Homo sapiens: one gene and its partners. The protein of the gene in region 1 purifies or fractionates together with the protein of each later gene. This does not show direct contact. Each region holds a gene or a part of one and is shown in the gene's direction. Other genes may lie near its edges.

Region 1 (5,125 bases):
TGAGAACTTCCAGAGGGTACCACGTATTATGACACACAAACACCTCCAGGATCCCAGGTGGCACCTGCACAATCACTTGTGGCGTGTGCGATTACTCACAGGAAAAGATGACGATTATGCGTAATCTCATGGTGACTCCTAGCAGGTGGGGAGTTCAGGCCAGGTCAGCTTTGGCTACCAAACCAGTTATAAAAACAGCCTTTGGTTTTCGGGCTCCTTTGGATTTTGGCACCATGCGCGAGGATTGTGTGTGGTCTGCAGTAATAACTGTCAGAAAGAAATGCTAAGCATGGAACACAGGCCGGGAGTGGGCACTGCTCTGTGTGCCTGCCATGTGTTCTCTCACTGAATCTTCACAACCACCCTGGGAGGCAAGTAGTGTGACTATCCTCCCTGAACAGGTGAGGAAGCTGAGGCTCAGACAGGACAAGAGGCTGGCCCAGAGACACAGAGCAAGTAAGTGGTGCAGTGAGGGTTAGAACGCAGCTCTTTTTTTTTTTTTTTTTTTTTTTTTTTTTAGAGACGGAGTCTAGCTGTATGGCCCAGGCTGGAGTGCAGTGGCGTGATCTAAGCTCTCTGCAAACTCCGCCTCCTGGGTTCAAGTGATTCTCCTGCCTCAGCCTCCCAAGTAGCTGTGATTACAGGCACCTGCCACCATGCCTGGCTACTTTTTGTATTTTTAGTAGAGACAGGGTTTCACTGTGTTGGCCAGGCTGGTCTCGAACTCCTGACCTTGTGATCCGCCTGCCTCGGCCTCCCAAAGTGCTGGGATTACAAGCGTAAGCCACCGTGCCTGGCAAGAACGCAGCTCTTTCTGACACCATGTCCTGGATGCATGAGAGGTGCTGGCAGCAAGGTAGGGGAGGCCTCAGCACAGTTTCTGAAGGCTGAGATCAGGGAAGAGCAAGGGAATAAGCTCAGAACCCCCAGCTCCTAGGTTAAGTTGAGGCAAGAGGGACGATGGATGGCCACATCTCTCTGGGGGTGGTTCTGAAGCTGTGGGCCCAGCAGAGCTGTGGCCTCACCTGCTGCGACAGCCATGGGTCCTTAGCTGAAATGCTGAGACTTGTCTAATGGTTTTCCCTGGCCAGGACCCGAAACTGTACAAAAAAACCCTCAAGCGGACACGCAAATTTGTGGTGGATGGTGTGGAGGTGAGCATCACCACCTCCAAGATCATCAGCGAAGATGAGAAGAAGGATGAGGAGATGAGATTTCTCAGGCAAGCCTGGGAAGGGCCACCAATGGTGGTAACAGGGTGGGGCTATGGTAAGAGGAGTGGGCATTGGTCCTTTGGTGAGAGGGCTGTCTGTCTACAGCATGAAGTGGGGGAATCAAGGAGGCAAAAGGAAACTCATTTTGCCTGCGATCCTGCACTCCCCCATCTACCCAACCGTTCACCTATCTATCCACTCATCCATTCATTTATTCACCCATCTATCCACCTACTCACCTATCTACCTATTCATCTATCCACCCATCCGTCTACCCATCCTTCCACCCACTCACCCCTCCACCCATCCACCTATCTACCCACTCAACTTTCCATCCATCCATCCAACTGTCCACCCATTCATCTACCTATCTACTTAATCATCCATCCTTCCATTCATTTATCCACGCATCAATCCACCTACTCACCTGTCTGCCTATCCATCTATCCACCCAGTCATTCACCCATCCATTCATCCATCCATTCATCCACTCATCCACTGATTCATCTACCCACTCACTCACCTTCCATCTATCCACCTAACAATCCACCCATCCTTCTACTCACTCACCATTCCATCCTTCCCTTCATCTGCCGAATTATCCATCTGTTTATCTATCCATCCACCCAATCACCCATCCGTCCATTTTATCCTTCTATCCATTTATCTACCCATCTATCTATTTACCTACTCCCTATCTACCTTTCCGTCTGTCCACCCAATCATCCATCCAGTCATCCATCCACCCACCCACTCATCTACCCATTCAGCCTTCCACCTATCTACCTAACCATCCATCCATCCATCCATCCATCCATCCATCCATCCATCCATCCATCCATCCATGTATCCACCAACCCACCAGGTTGGAGACAAGGTGGTGACCCAAATAGATAAGGCCATTGCCCTTGTAGAACTTACACCTAATGGGCCAACATACAGTACACAAGATAATCCCTGATTGTGGTACATGCCATGAAACAAGTAACAGGTGACATGATAGTGAGTGCTTGGAGTAGGGGAGGCTGCTCCAAGGGAAGCCCCTGAGCCAGGCCTAAAGGATAAGGGGAGGAGAGCTGGGGGAGCCCAGGGGAAATTGCAGTTGCTGAGGCCCTGAGGGATAACTACTCAGCTTGTTTAAGGGACTGGTGGAGGGAGAGAGGGAGATCTTGACTAGGATGGGCAGGCTCTGGGCTCAGGCTGGGGCAGTGGCCGGGAAGAGGGAAAAACATGGTCAGATTTGACCTACATTTTGGAGGCAAAACCAGTGAGTTGGTAAAGGACTGGAACAGGGAGGAAGGTGTGAGGCAAAGCTGTTTGCTAGGATCAGCTTTATACTTTTCAGTTGTTCATCCCCCACTTACAGCCCTCCTTCGGGAGACCCTATTTCCACATTTTTTAAACAAATGAGGAAACACTATTTCTGGGCAAGTAAGTCACTTGCCCTGGGTCTTCCAGTTAGGCAGGGGTAAAGCTGAGATTCTAACTGGGTCTGTGTGTGTGAGAATTCCTTCAGGTTTCACTGGACCATGTAGCTGGCAGGGGTTGGGGGAGCTTAACACTTAGGGAGGCCATGGAGCCACGGAGTCCCCTGGGGGCCAGGCCTTTGCAGGGTAAATTCATGGTTAGTGTAGAGAAAATTTCTAGAACATTAATCACATATTTTTATACATGTGAATTAAAATTTTTTTAATTTTATGTATTTATTTATTTTTTGAGATGGAGTCTCGCTCTGTCGCTCAGGCTGGAGTGCAGTGGTGCTATCTTGGTTCAGTGCAACTTCTGCCTCCCGGGTTCAAGCGATTCTCTTGCCTCAGCCTCCTGAGTAGCTGGGACTACAGGTGCCCGCCACCATGCCCGGCTAATTTTTGTATTTTTAGTACACACGGGGTTTCACCGTATTGGCCAGGCTGGTCTCAAACTCCTGACCTTGTGATCCGCCCACCTCGGCCTCCCAAAGTGCTGGAATTACAGATGTGAGCCACCGCGCCCGGCCTAATACTCATATTTTTTTAAACGTTTAACCATGCAGCTGGGCACAGCAGCACACACCTGTAATTTCAGCACTTTGGGAGGCTGAAGTGAGAGGATCACTTGAGCCCAGGAGTTCGAGACCATCTGGGCAACCTAGTGTCTCTACAAAAAAATTTTAAAATTAGCTGGGCACATACCTGTAGTCCCAGCTACTCGGGAGGCTGAAGTGGGAGGATCACTTGAGCATAGGAGGTCAAGGCTGCAGTGAGCTGCGTTCATGCCACCGCACTCCAGCCTGGGTAACAGAGCAAGACTCTATCTCTCAAAAATAAATTTAAGGCCGGGCGCGGTGGCTCACGCCTGTAATCCCAGCACTTTGGGAGGCCGAGGCGGGTGGATCATGAGGTCAGGAGATCGAGACCATCCTGGCTAACAAGGTGAAACCCCGTCTCTACTAAAAATACAAAAAATTAGCCGGGCGCGGTGGCGGGCGCCTGTAGTCCCAGCTACTCGGGAGGCTGAGGCAGGAGAATGGCGTGAACCCGGGAGGCGGAGCTTGCAGTGAGCCGAGATTGCGCCACTGCAGTCCGCAGTCCGGCCTGGGCGACAGAGCGAGACTCCGTCTCAAAAAAAAAAAAAAAATAAATAAGTAAATAAATTTAAAAAATAAATTGTAAAAAATGAAAGCATAGGCCAGGTGTAGTGGCTCACACCTGTAATCCCAGCACTTTGGGAGGCCTAGGCGAGTGGATCACCTGAGGTCAGGAGTTCGAGAAAAGCCTGGCCAACATGGCAAAACCTGGTCTCTACTAAAACTACAAAAATTAGCCAGCTGTGGTGGCCGGCGTCTGTAATCCCAGCTACTCGGGAGGCTGAGACAGGAGAATCACTTGAACCCAGGAGGCGGAGGTTGCAGTGAGCCGAGATTGTGTCACTACACTCCAGCCTGGGCGACAGGGTGAGATTCTGTCTCAAAAGTAAATAAATAAATAAATAAATAAATAAATAAGCCAAAACCAAATAAAAGTAGTTTTAGATGTTGTGGATCTCTTCTCCCTCTAGGAGACAGAGGGAGGAAAAACAGACTTTTCACTAGTGTATCTGCATACACCACACACACACACACACACACACACACACACACACACACACACACACTGGTGTCATCTGTGTGGGTCGGGAGGCTAGGGCACAGGTTGCTTTGGCAGATGAAACCACCTTCTGTTCTAATGGTCACCTGAGAGGCACCCTGGACTCTGAGTTTCAACCTCAAGAGCTGGGTTTCCATCACCTCCCCTCTGGGCAATTGAAGTTCTCAGGGATAAATTCTAGATTGGCCACACCCCATGGAGAAGCAGTGCTCTCTGGCCCTGGCTGTGGTTCCCCACCCTCCTCCTGAGCAGAGCAGCTGTGTGCTACTCAGGGTCAAAAGGGGAGACCTCGAGGAGGTGAAGAGGTGCTCGGCAGGAACCGGGATTTTCTCGCTTGCCTGCCGTGGTCTGGAGGTCTGAGCGCCTGTAAACTAGGCCAGGCCACCAGACCACAGGGGTGTGGAAGGCCCTGATCATCCCCTGCTGGCCCAGGCCCCTGGTCATACCTGACCCCTGGCGTTTTTGGAGAATTGGGTCACACCTAGGCATCTGAACCATGTGGCTGAGCATTTATCACATTCTCAGACTGATGAGGCTTCCGGGCAGAGTTCCTCCTGTCCTTCCCTAAAACGGCTTCTGCCGTTCCCTCGCTCTTGAGCCTCAGCCTTCTCTTTGCTTGCCTTTCCTTCTGAGAGCACAGGTGGACCAGGGAGTGCTAGAGCTGGCTGCCTGCCTTCTTTCTGTACTCCTTTTAGGCTTTTTGTCAGTTCTTCTCTAAACCTTAGTTTCTCTTGAGTCAGGATTTCCATTTCCTCGTTAACACTCTCAAAACCTGCCTCCTCTCTT
Region 2 (5,125 bases), on another chromosome or scaffold:
AAGGAGGTGTCGTAAGCTGTAGGGCTGTTGCTCTTTACTTTTCCCTGTCAGTACCCACGAGGAGGTGTGTTTGGGCTGGAGGCCTGGGCTCACATGGTGGGTGCACAACCAAGACCATCATCATTGGTCTGATGATGAATTTTTAGCAACTCTGAACCTAACCTGTGCTCTGTAACAGTTTCTGAAATGAGGTGTACAGAGATGGGAAGAATCTTTTGGAAAACAGAGACAGACATAGTAAAAAAAAAAAAAAAGGAAAAAGAATAGATATAACAAAAATATGGCTGGATTGTACATTTCATAATACACATCCATTCATAAATATACTTTAGTTTCATGGTTTTTTAAAAATTCCTAGTAGTATAGATAAGGCAGAAGTAACACTTATGGGGAGAACAGACTGCAATTTGGCAGCAAAAGGAAGGTGTTAAACTGTAGCTGGAAATAACAGCAGACTTGATCTGTTCTATATTAATTTTTCCAGCTTCAAAACCAACAAACAATTGAAGGTTTAAAAAAAAGAAAGTGGCTGGGCACGGTGGCTCACGCCTGTCATCCTAGCACTTGGGAGGCCAAGGCGGGGAGATCACCTGAGGTCAGGAGATCGAGACCAGCCTGGCCAACATGGTGAAACCCCATCTCTACTAAAAAAAAAAAAACAAAAAAACGAAATACAGTAAATTAGCCGAGCATGGTGGCTCGCGCCTGTAGTTCCAGCTATTCGGGATGCTGAGGCAGGAGAATCACTTAAACTTTGGAGGCAGAGGTTGCAGTGAGCTGAGGTCGCACATTGCATTCCAGCCTGGGCAACAAGAGCAAAACTCCATCTCAAAAAAATAAAAAAAGAAAGAAAAAGTCAGCCTTAATTTAGTGATGTTATTAAGAATAACAAATGCCAGTGTGATGATCAGTCCTGGACTCTCAGGTTTGCCTGTTCTGACTAGAGTTATGGTGAAACTTTAGTTATCTTCCAGTTTTTAATACGGTCCTTGCTGCAATGACTTTATTCTAGAGAACTAGCATTACTAAAACATTTTAGTGCTTAGTGGTTTTTAATACTTATTTCACAAGAATAATTAAATAAGTCTTTTCCTCGTTGAGTGTGTAGTATGATGCAGGTTAGGTATCTGTGACACCTATAAGTAAGGCTGACCCATGAACAACACTAGCTTGAACTGTGTGGGTCCATTTATATGGAGACTTAAAAAAAATAAATACATTGGAAAATTATTTGGAGAGTTGCAACAGTTTGAAAAAAATTCAGATGAACTGGGTAGTCTAGAAATATGAAAACAATTGAGAAAAAGTTACATATGTCATGAATGCATAAAATACATGTAGATACTAATAATCAGTTTTATCATTTACTACCATAAAATATACACAAATCTATTATAAAAAGTTAAAATTTGTCTAAACTTATGCACACACAGACTGTACATGGTGCTATTCATAGTTGAGAGAAATGTAAACAAATATAAAGATGCAGTATTATAACTGCATACAATTAACTGTAGTACATACAGTACTCCTGTAACAATTCTATAGCCACTTCCTGATGTTGTTGCAGTGCGCTCAAGCATTGGGGGTAGCTGCTTGGAAGGTACTGTGATGCTAATCATCTCTGTGGGAGCAGTTCCTCTCTCCAGTACACCTCAGATCGCAGTAAAAAGTGACCTCTTGAGATTCTTGAGTATGTTTTGTTGTGTTTAGTGCAGTACCACAAACCTTGAATAACACTATGGGACCCATACAAAGTGCCACTAGTGATGCTGGCAGTGCTCCCTAGAAGCCAATAAAACCCCTGACAGCATTGAATTGCTTGCTAGATTGAGGAATGGTTGCCTGTCGCTTCAGACAGATGATTCATTTTGCAAACAGACCATGTAAACTTATGGTATTGATAAATACAGTATGGTACTGCAAATGTATTTCCTCTTCCTTATGGTTTTCTGAATAACATTTTCTTTTTTCTATCTCATTTTATCTTAAGAATACAGTATATAATACATATAACACAAAGTGTGTGTTAACTGTTTATGTTTTCAGTCAGGCTTCCGGTCAACAATAGGCTATTAGTAGTTAAGTTTCTGGGGAGCCAAAAGTTATACACAGAGTTTTGACTGCATGAAAGGTTGGCACCCCTAACCTCCAAGTTGTTCAGGGGTCAACTATATTAAAAGTCTATGATATACTCTTGGCTTTCCAGAAACTTAATTTGAAGAAGTTAATTTAAAAACCATAGTTTTCTATATATTAATTTGACAGTTCAGCCTTTATTAGGTCAAAGTTTCAAAAGAGCTCAGCTGTTAGATGTTTAGTAATGAATGCCATCAGCCTTTATGTCATCAGGATTCAGGATGTTTAGGTGTGTGTTTGCTCAGGGCTCAGAAATAGTCTTGGTGGTGGGTTTACAGCTGCCCATCTTGTTAGGTGTGGAACCTGCCTTAGCGCTGGGGCTGCTGCCAGTCTATGGGAACATTCCCTCCCGTGCCCTTCCTACACTGTAGAGGCCTACAGGTTGATGACCACTTCTGGGACCCTTCATTACACCTCTCACTGAAAGCATGTAGAGTTGTGTAAGTGACAGCAGCCAGCCTTGACTCATCAAATAGTCTTTCAGTTTGTAAAAAAAAAAAAAAAAAAGTCCAGGATTTTATTTTACACTGTAACATCTGAGGTGGGTTTCAATTCTAGAGCACAATGGAGACTGATGTCTGGGTTTCACCCCTAGAATTGTTTTTACATTGTCTGTGATATAGTACAGATGAAAATAAAAGAGAATTATTTACACCTTACATTTGCTGTTACAAGTATTCTGTATTATGTCTATATCATGTCAAGTAACATAGGTATGTTCTTATTTCATTTATTCTTGTTTCTCCATGTACACAAATGAGTACATCATTTCCACTTACGGCAAAAGTGATATGTCATTGTATCAGATCCATCTCTCAGTATTATCTGTATCTTCTGATTTCTTAATCAAATTTATGCTGTCAAAATATGTTAATGATGTTTTTTAAAGTGTTTATTGAGAAATTCACAAAGAACTTGTATTTTGTCAAAAGGCCATTGTTTTTGTTGCCAACATTATCAGTGCAGATGTACTAAATTGCAAGTTACAGAAAACCCAGCTCAAGGTGACTTATAGGAAGGGTATTTACTGGCTTGCCTAACTGAAAGGCCAGCTATAGGCCAAACTTCAGGGTTGATTTGATTTAGCAACTTAACAATGCTATTGAGAGTTTAGTTTCCTTCTTCCTTCTCTGCCATCTGCATTCCCACCTTCCTCTTGAAAGGGCAGGGTGGTTGCCAGCCATTCCCACACCTACACATTTTCTCACTCTGGTCCCGTGGTGTTTAATAGCTTGCCCAGAAAACCTTCCCTTTGTCACATTGATCTTAATTGAGTTGTGTGCCCATGCGTGAACCAGCAACTGGCTGGGGATGGGGTCATCCTGAGTAGCTCAGGCTTGGAGTCAGCCTCACCCAAAGTATAGGGCTGTGGGGAGGAAGCACAGAAACCACAGTCAGAACTGGGTAATTAGCTAGAGGAGGAGGAAATGGATGAAGAGCGACAGCCACTGTCCACTGTGCCATGTGATTTACAGTCATTTGGGTTTTGTTTATAAGAATGCTTGCTTTATTTTTTCATTTTTTTCTTCTTCTGTCTTTAAGGGGCCTTTACAACAACTAAACGGACAGGCATTCCAGCCCCACGGGAATTTTCAGTAACTGTCTCAAGAGAGAGGTCTGTGCCACGTGGTCCCTCCAACCCCAGGAAATCAGTGTCCAGTCCAACTTCTTCCAACACTCCCACTCCTACGAAACACCTGAGGACCCCTTCCACAAAGCCCAAGCAAGAGAATGAAGGTGGAGAAAAGGCTGCGCTTGAGTCCCAAGTTCGGGAACTTTTGGCAGAAGCCAAAGCAAAAGATAGTGAAATTAACAGGCTTCGAAGTGAACTAAAGAAATACAAAGAGAAAAGGACTCTGAACGCTGAGGGGACTGATGCTTTGGGCCCAAATGTCGATGGAACATCAGTCTCCCCAGGTGACACGGAACCTATGATAAGAGCTCTTGAGGAGAAGAACAAGAACTTTCAGAAAGAGCTTTCCGATCTAGAGGAAGAAAACCGGGTCCTGAAGGAGAAACTGATCTATCTTGAGCACTCCCCAAATTCAGAAGGGGCAGCAAGTCACACTGGCGACAGCAGCTGCCCAACATCCATAACTCAAGAGTCAAGCTTCGGAAGCCCAACTGGAAATCAGATGTCCAGTGACATTGATGAGTATAAAAAAAACATACATGGAAATGCATTACGGACATCAGGCTCCTCAAGTAGCGATGTTACCAAAGCTTCTTTGTCGCCAGATGCTTCCGACTTTGAGCACATTACAGCAGAGACACCCTCAAGGCCCCTGTCCTCCACCAGTAACCCCTTTAAGAGTTCAAAGTGTTCTACTGCTGGGAGTTCCCCAAACAGCGTAAGTGAATTGTCCCTGGCTTCCCTCACAGAGAAGATACAAAAGATGGAAGAAAACCACCATAGCACTGCAGAAGAACTACAGGCTACTCTACAAGAATTATCAGACCAGCAACAAATGGTACAGGAATTGACAGCTGAAAATGAGAAGCTGGTGGATGAAAAGACGATTTTAGAGACATCCTTTCATCAGCATCGAGAGAGGGCAGAGCAGCTAAGTCAAGAAAATGAGAAGCTGATGAATCTTTTACAAGAGCGAGTAAAGAATGAAGAGCCCACCACTCAGGAAGGAAAAATTATTGAACTGGAGCAGAAGTGCACAGGTATTCTTGAACAGGGCCGCTTTGAAAGAGAGAAGCTACTCAACATTCAGCAGCAGTTGACCTGTAGCTTGCGGAAGGTTGAGGAAGAAAACCAAGGAGCTTTAGAAATGATTAAACGTCTGAAGGAAGAAAATGAAAAACTGAATGAGTTTCTAGAACTGGAACGGCATAATAATAACATGATGGCCAAAACTTTGGAAGAGTGTAGAGTTACCTTGGAAGGGCTAAAAATGGAGAATGGATCTTTGAAGTCTCATTTGCAGGGTGAGAAGCAGAAAGCCACAGAGGCCAGTGCTGTGGAGCAGACGGCAGA
Region 3 (5,125 bases), on another chromosome or scaffold:
TCACTGTGTTAACCTGGATGGCCTCGATCTCCTGACCTTGTGAGCCACCTGCCTCGGCCTCCCAAAGTGCTGGGATTACAGGCATGAGCCACTGCGCCCAGCTAGTTTTTTGTATTTTTAGTGGGGACAGGGTTTCAGTATGTTGGCCAGGCTGGTCTCGAACTCCTGACCTCATGATCTGCCCACCTCAGCCTCCCAAAGTGCTGGGATTACAGGCATGAACCACTGTGCCCGGCCTTCTTTTTTGCTTTTTTTGGAGATGGAGTCTCTGTCACCCAGGCTGGAGTGCAGTGTCACCATCATAGCTCGCTGCAGCCTTGAACTCCTGGGCAATCCTTCTGCCTCAGCCTCCCAAGGAGCTACAGATTTCCCCTTTTAAAAGCACACAAGCCATGTGGATTAGGGCCCACCCTAATGACCTCATTTTAACTCGATGACCTCTGTACACAACCCTGTGTCCAAATAGGATCATATCCTGGGGTACTGGTGGTTGGCACTGGGGAGACACAGTTCACCCCATGACATAGTGCATGATCTCATGACATCTCTTTGTGAAACCTCTCAGTGGCTTATTGGCCCATTTTATAGATGAGGAAAGCTGAGGCCCAGGCCAATCAAGAATATACAGCATGCCATCATTTCTTGGTTCATTCTACAAGCAATTACTGAGTGCCTGCTGTGTGCCAAGCCCCTGTGTTGGGCACTAGGGGCCCAGTGTGAGCAGACATACCTGGTGTCCTTCCCAAAGGGCTCACAACAGACAGGCACAGGGCCAGGGGGTTAGGGCAGCAAGGATGCGAGCTTTGGTGGTGCAAGTCCAGGTGCTGCTGGGGCCCAGAGGAGGTGCCTGGCTCAGCCTAGGGAGGTGGGAGTGGGGAGGGTGACCCCCATGCCCAGGGCATCATAGCTGAGAAGTAACGTTACAGAGCAGGGAAAGGAAGGGTATTTCAAGCAGGGATCCAGCATGTGCAAAGGCCCTGAGGTAGGAATGGGGGTTCTTTGGGTTGGCAGGGGCATAGAGGTGGGGCTGGGGGGTAGAGTGAAGCTGGAGCATGGGGCGTGGCCAGGGCTTAGAGGCAGGGTTGGGGGCGGAGTGAAGCTGGAGCCCAGGGCGTGGCCACGGCTGAGAGTCGGGGCTGGGAGCAGGGTGAAGCTGGGGCCTGGGGTGTGACCAGGACTTAGAAGCGGGGCTGGGGGTCGGAGCGAAGCTGTTGCATGGCCAGGGTTTAAAGGTGGGGCTGGGGGGGTGCAGGGTGAAGTTGGAGCCTGGGGCATGGCCAGGGCTTAGAGGCAAGGCTGGGGGAGGCTGTGGGGTGAAGCTGGGGCCTGGGGCGTGGCCAGGGCTGAGTGGTGCGGCTGGGGGGCAGGTTGAAGCTGTAGCCTGGGGTGTGGCCAGGGCTTAGAGGCGGGGCTAAGGGCAGGGTGAGGCTGGGACCTGGGGCGAGTCCAGGGTTGAGTAGCGGGGCCTTGGGCGCGGTGAAGCTGGGGCCTGGGGTGTGGCCAGGGCTGAGAGGCAGGACTGGGGGCGGGGTGAAGCTGGGGCCTGGGGTGTGGCCAGGGCTTTGGGCTGCTGTGCAGGGTTCAAATGACATGGGAGGGGCTCCTAGAGGGCAGCGCTGATGTGGGCGGAGCCAGGTCGACTTTGTGGGCCGAGCCAGTCTGACTGGGAGCCATGGAGTGGGTGGGGAAAGCGTGTTGGAGAGAGGCTGGAGGCTCCTTACCCCAGCGACTCCTCAACGTCTGTGCCCCACAGTGAAGCACCCGCCCGCAGAGCCCTCCCGCTTCATCTCGGCTCCCACCAAGACACCGGACAAGATGGGCTTCGACGAGGTGAGCTGGGCCTTCCCTGGAGGCGGGGCGGGGGCTGGAGGGCCCTTGTTTGCAGGGGCTGATCTGGCTGGGGACTCTCCGGGCTGCAGGTCTTCATGATCAACCTGAGGCGGCGGCAGGACCGGCGGGAGCGCATGCTGCGGGCGCTGCAGGCACAGGAGATCGAGTGCCGGCTGGTGGAGGCCGTGGACGGCAAGTGAGTCCGAGGCCTGGGGGTGGGGGGGCGGGTCCGCACGTGGATGTGGGTGTAGACCTCGCTGGTAGACGGCAAGTGATTCAGATGGGGGCGGGCGTGGTGTCCAAACAGATGTAGACCTCGTCAGTGGGCGTCCTGAAGGGGAAGTGAATGGGACCCTGGGGAAGGGGCAGATCCTCACAGTTGTAGACCATGGAAGGCAAGTGAGTCCTGACCCAGGGGAATGGGTAGGTTTGCATGCTGCCAGTGTAGACTGGTGGGGACTGTGGAGGGGTAAGTCAGTCAGACCCCAGGAGAGGAGGAGAGCAGGTTTGCCCGCGAGTGTATACCATGTGCAGGTGAGTGAGGCCCCATGTGCCCGGAAGGGGTGCCAGTGCTACAAGAGGTGGACCAGCTGCTCAACGCCGCAGGGGGTGGTGGAATGGCCGGGGATGGCAGAATGGCAGGCAGGGTGAACCTTCTTCGTGACCCTCTCCTCCTCCTCTCCAGAGCCATGAACACCAGCCAGGTGGAGGCGCTGGGGATCCAGATGCTGCCTGGCTACCGGGACCCCTACCACGGCCGGCCCCTCACCAAGGGTGAGCTGGGCTGCTTCCTGAGCCACTACAACATCTGGAAGGAGGTGTGTCCTGAGTGATGGGCGGGGCCAGAGTTATGACTCTAGATCTCATCGGAGATTTGGACGGGAAAGGGGTTGAAAGAGTTCCCCAAAGCCCCGGCTAGGCATCCAGCCTCAGCCATGGGACCCATGGCCTCTCTTTAGTGAATGATGCGCCACACCAGCTGTATCACCCCCAGGTGTACCTGCCATCCTTCCATTGCGCAAATGTGGAAACTGAGCCTGGGGGTAGGGGTGAGCCCTTTTGAGCAGCAGGTGGTGTCTGGGGCCTGGGACCTGTAAACAAATCCTCATTACTCCCAGCCTGGTCTCTGTGCTTGATGTTTAGTACTAGAAGTCATGGCCACAGAGCCACTTTAAACCAGCACCTGCCCAGTGCTGCTGGGGGCACTCACCAGCCCAGGCATCCTCATCCACCCTCAGAGGGAGAGGCTGTGATTGGAGGAGGGTGTCTGACTAGGCTTCGAACTTGGGCCATCAGGGCCGGGCATGGTGGCGCACACCTGTGGTCCCAACTATTTGGGAGGCTAAAGTGGGAGAGTGGCTTGAGCCCAGGAGTTAAGGCTGCAGTCAGCCAAGATCGTGCCACTGCACTGCAGACTGGACAGCAGAGCAAAACCGTGTCTCAGAAAAAAGAAAAATGGCTGGGCGTGGTGGCTCATGCCTGTAATCTCAGCACTTTGGGAGGCCGAGGCAGGCGGATCACCTTAGGTCAGGAGTTCAAGACCAGCCTGGCCAACATGGTGAAACCTAGACTCTACTAAAAATACAAAAATTATCTGGGTGTGGTGGTGGGCACCTGTAATCCCTCTACTTGGGAGACTGAGGCAGGAGAATCACTTGAACCCAGGAGGCAGAGGTTGCAGTGGGCTGAAATCATGCCATTGCACTCCAGCCTGGGCGACAAGAGTGACACTCCATCTCAAAAAAAGAAAAATAAAATCCGGGCGTAGTGGCACATGCCTGTAATCCCAGCTGCTCAGGAGGCTGAGGCAGAATTACTTGAACCTGGGAGGCGGAGGTTGCAGTTGAGATCGTTCCACTGCACTCCAGCCTGGGCGACAGGGCGAGACTCCGTCTCAAAAAAAAAAAAAAAGAAAAAGAAAAGAAAAACTTGTTATCGAATGTGAAGCCAAATGGGGGTGTGCGGCTGCAAGGCGGGAGGTGCATGAGGCGTGGGCATTTGAGGGGCTGGGAGGCCTTTCTCTTCTGAGATCCATTATGGACGGCAGAGGGCAGAGGTTTGGATGTCCAGATGTCCCTGGAGCTAGGAGAGGCAGGGAGATGCACTGGCTTCTCTACGGGTCTTTCAAACCTTCTCAAAGCAAAGCTCTGTGCTTTAGGGTCAGGCCTGGCCTTGGCCTCCCTGTGATGTGGCGGGGCTTCCTCCCTCAGGTGGTGGACCGGGGGCTGCAGAAATCGCTTGTGTTTGAGGATGACCTGCGTTTTGAGATCTTCTTCAAGAGACGTCTGATGAACCTCATGCGGGATGTGGAGCGGGAGGGCCTGGACTGGGACCTCATGTGAGTGGGGGTCTGAGGATGGGGTGAAGCTGGGGCCTGGGGCAAGGCCAGGACTTAGAGGTGGGGGTGGGGGCAGGGTGGAGCTGGGACCTGGGGATGGGTCATGGCTTAGAGGCGGGGCTTGAAGGTGGGGTGGAACTGGAGCCTAGGTACATGGCCAGGGCTTAGAGGTGGGGCTGGGAGGCGGAGTGGAGCTGAATCCTACGGGCGTGGCCACAGCGCTGCAGCTGAGCCTAGAGCCTGTATGTCTGGGTGTGGTCAGGGTGGCAGGCGTGGCCAACCCTTGGAAGCGTAGCAGGAGGGCTCACGTGGTTCCTGGGCCTGAAGGCACTGTCAGGGCTGTAGCCTATAGGGAAGGGCGTTGGAAGGATCACCCAGAACTCAAGGGACCTGGCCGGAAGCCTGCAGGCTTGGTCAAGGCTTAGAGACTTGACTGAGGCCTGTGGAGGTGGATGTGGCTAAAATTTGACCGGGCAGCCTGTGGGCGTGGCTGAAGAGCATGGGGGTGTGGTCAGAGCTGGAGGTGTGGCCGAAGAGTGTGGGGGCGTGGCCAGGGCGCCTGGTCTTAGACAAGCCCCTGGATGGGAGTGCCACCAACATGTTTCCAGCACTGGAGCCGTCCTTCTCTTCTGTAAGTGGGCTGGTTTGTCCTCTCCCTTCCTCCATCTCTTTTTTCCCTTCCATGTGCAGTGCCCTAATCTGCATTCTGGGAACACTGCCCCATGTGAATAGTAACTGCACCCCTCCATTCCTGACTGCCCCCCCATCAGGGCACCTCGCCCACCTCCACCCCCACTGTCCTCTGAACTCAGAGCAGCTTCAGCCTCAGAGAACGTCTGCGTGATCCTGCTCTCCCCAGCTCCAGATCCTCCATGGCTCCCTCACGCCCTTTGGAAAAACTCACTCTTCTCCCCCATGACCGCCAGACCCCTGGGCTCCTGCATTCACTCCATCCAG

What was found.
Region 2: the proteins of STK10 (region 1) and SPECC1 purify together in Homo sapiens (affinity purification with mass spectrometry, with the first as the bait; one large-scale study listed by BioGRID). This does not show direct contact.
Region 3: the proteins of STK10 (region 1) and COLGALT1 fractionate together in Homo sapiens (co-fractionation; one large-scale study listed by BioGRID). This does not show direct contact.

Annotation. Positions count from the first base shown.
Region 1 is NC_000005.10:172,086,329-172,091,453, reverse strand, and holds part of STK10 (serine/threonine-protein kinase 10), read left to right. Parts: intron 1-1,091; coding exon 1,092-1,222; intron 1,223-5,125. UniProt on the Homo sapiens protein: Serine/threonine-protein kinase involved in regulation of lymphocyte migration. Phosphorylates MSN, and possibly PLK1. Involved in regulation of lymphocyte migration by mediating phosphorylation of ERM proteins such as MSN.
Region 2 is NC_000017.11:20,200,652-20,205,776, forward strand, and holds part of SPECC1 (cytospin-B), read left to right. Parts: intron 1-3,681; coding exon 3,682-5,125.
Region 3 is NC_000019.10:17,575,442-17,580,566, forward strand, and holds part of COLGALT1 (procollagen galactosyltransferase 1 precursor), read left to right. Parts: intron 1-1,753; coding exon 1,754-1,830; intron 1,831-1,919; coding exon 1,920-2,026; intron 2,027-2,515; coding exon 2,516-2,648; intron 2,649-4,040; coding exon 4,041-4,168; intron 4,169-5,125. UniProt on the Homo sapiens protein: Beta-galactosyltransferase that transfers beta-galactose to hydroxylysine residues of type I collagen. By acting on collagen glycosylation, facilitates the formation of collagen triple helix. Also involved in the biosynthesis of collagen type IV.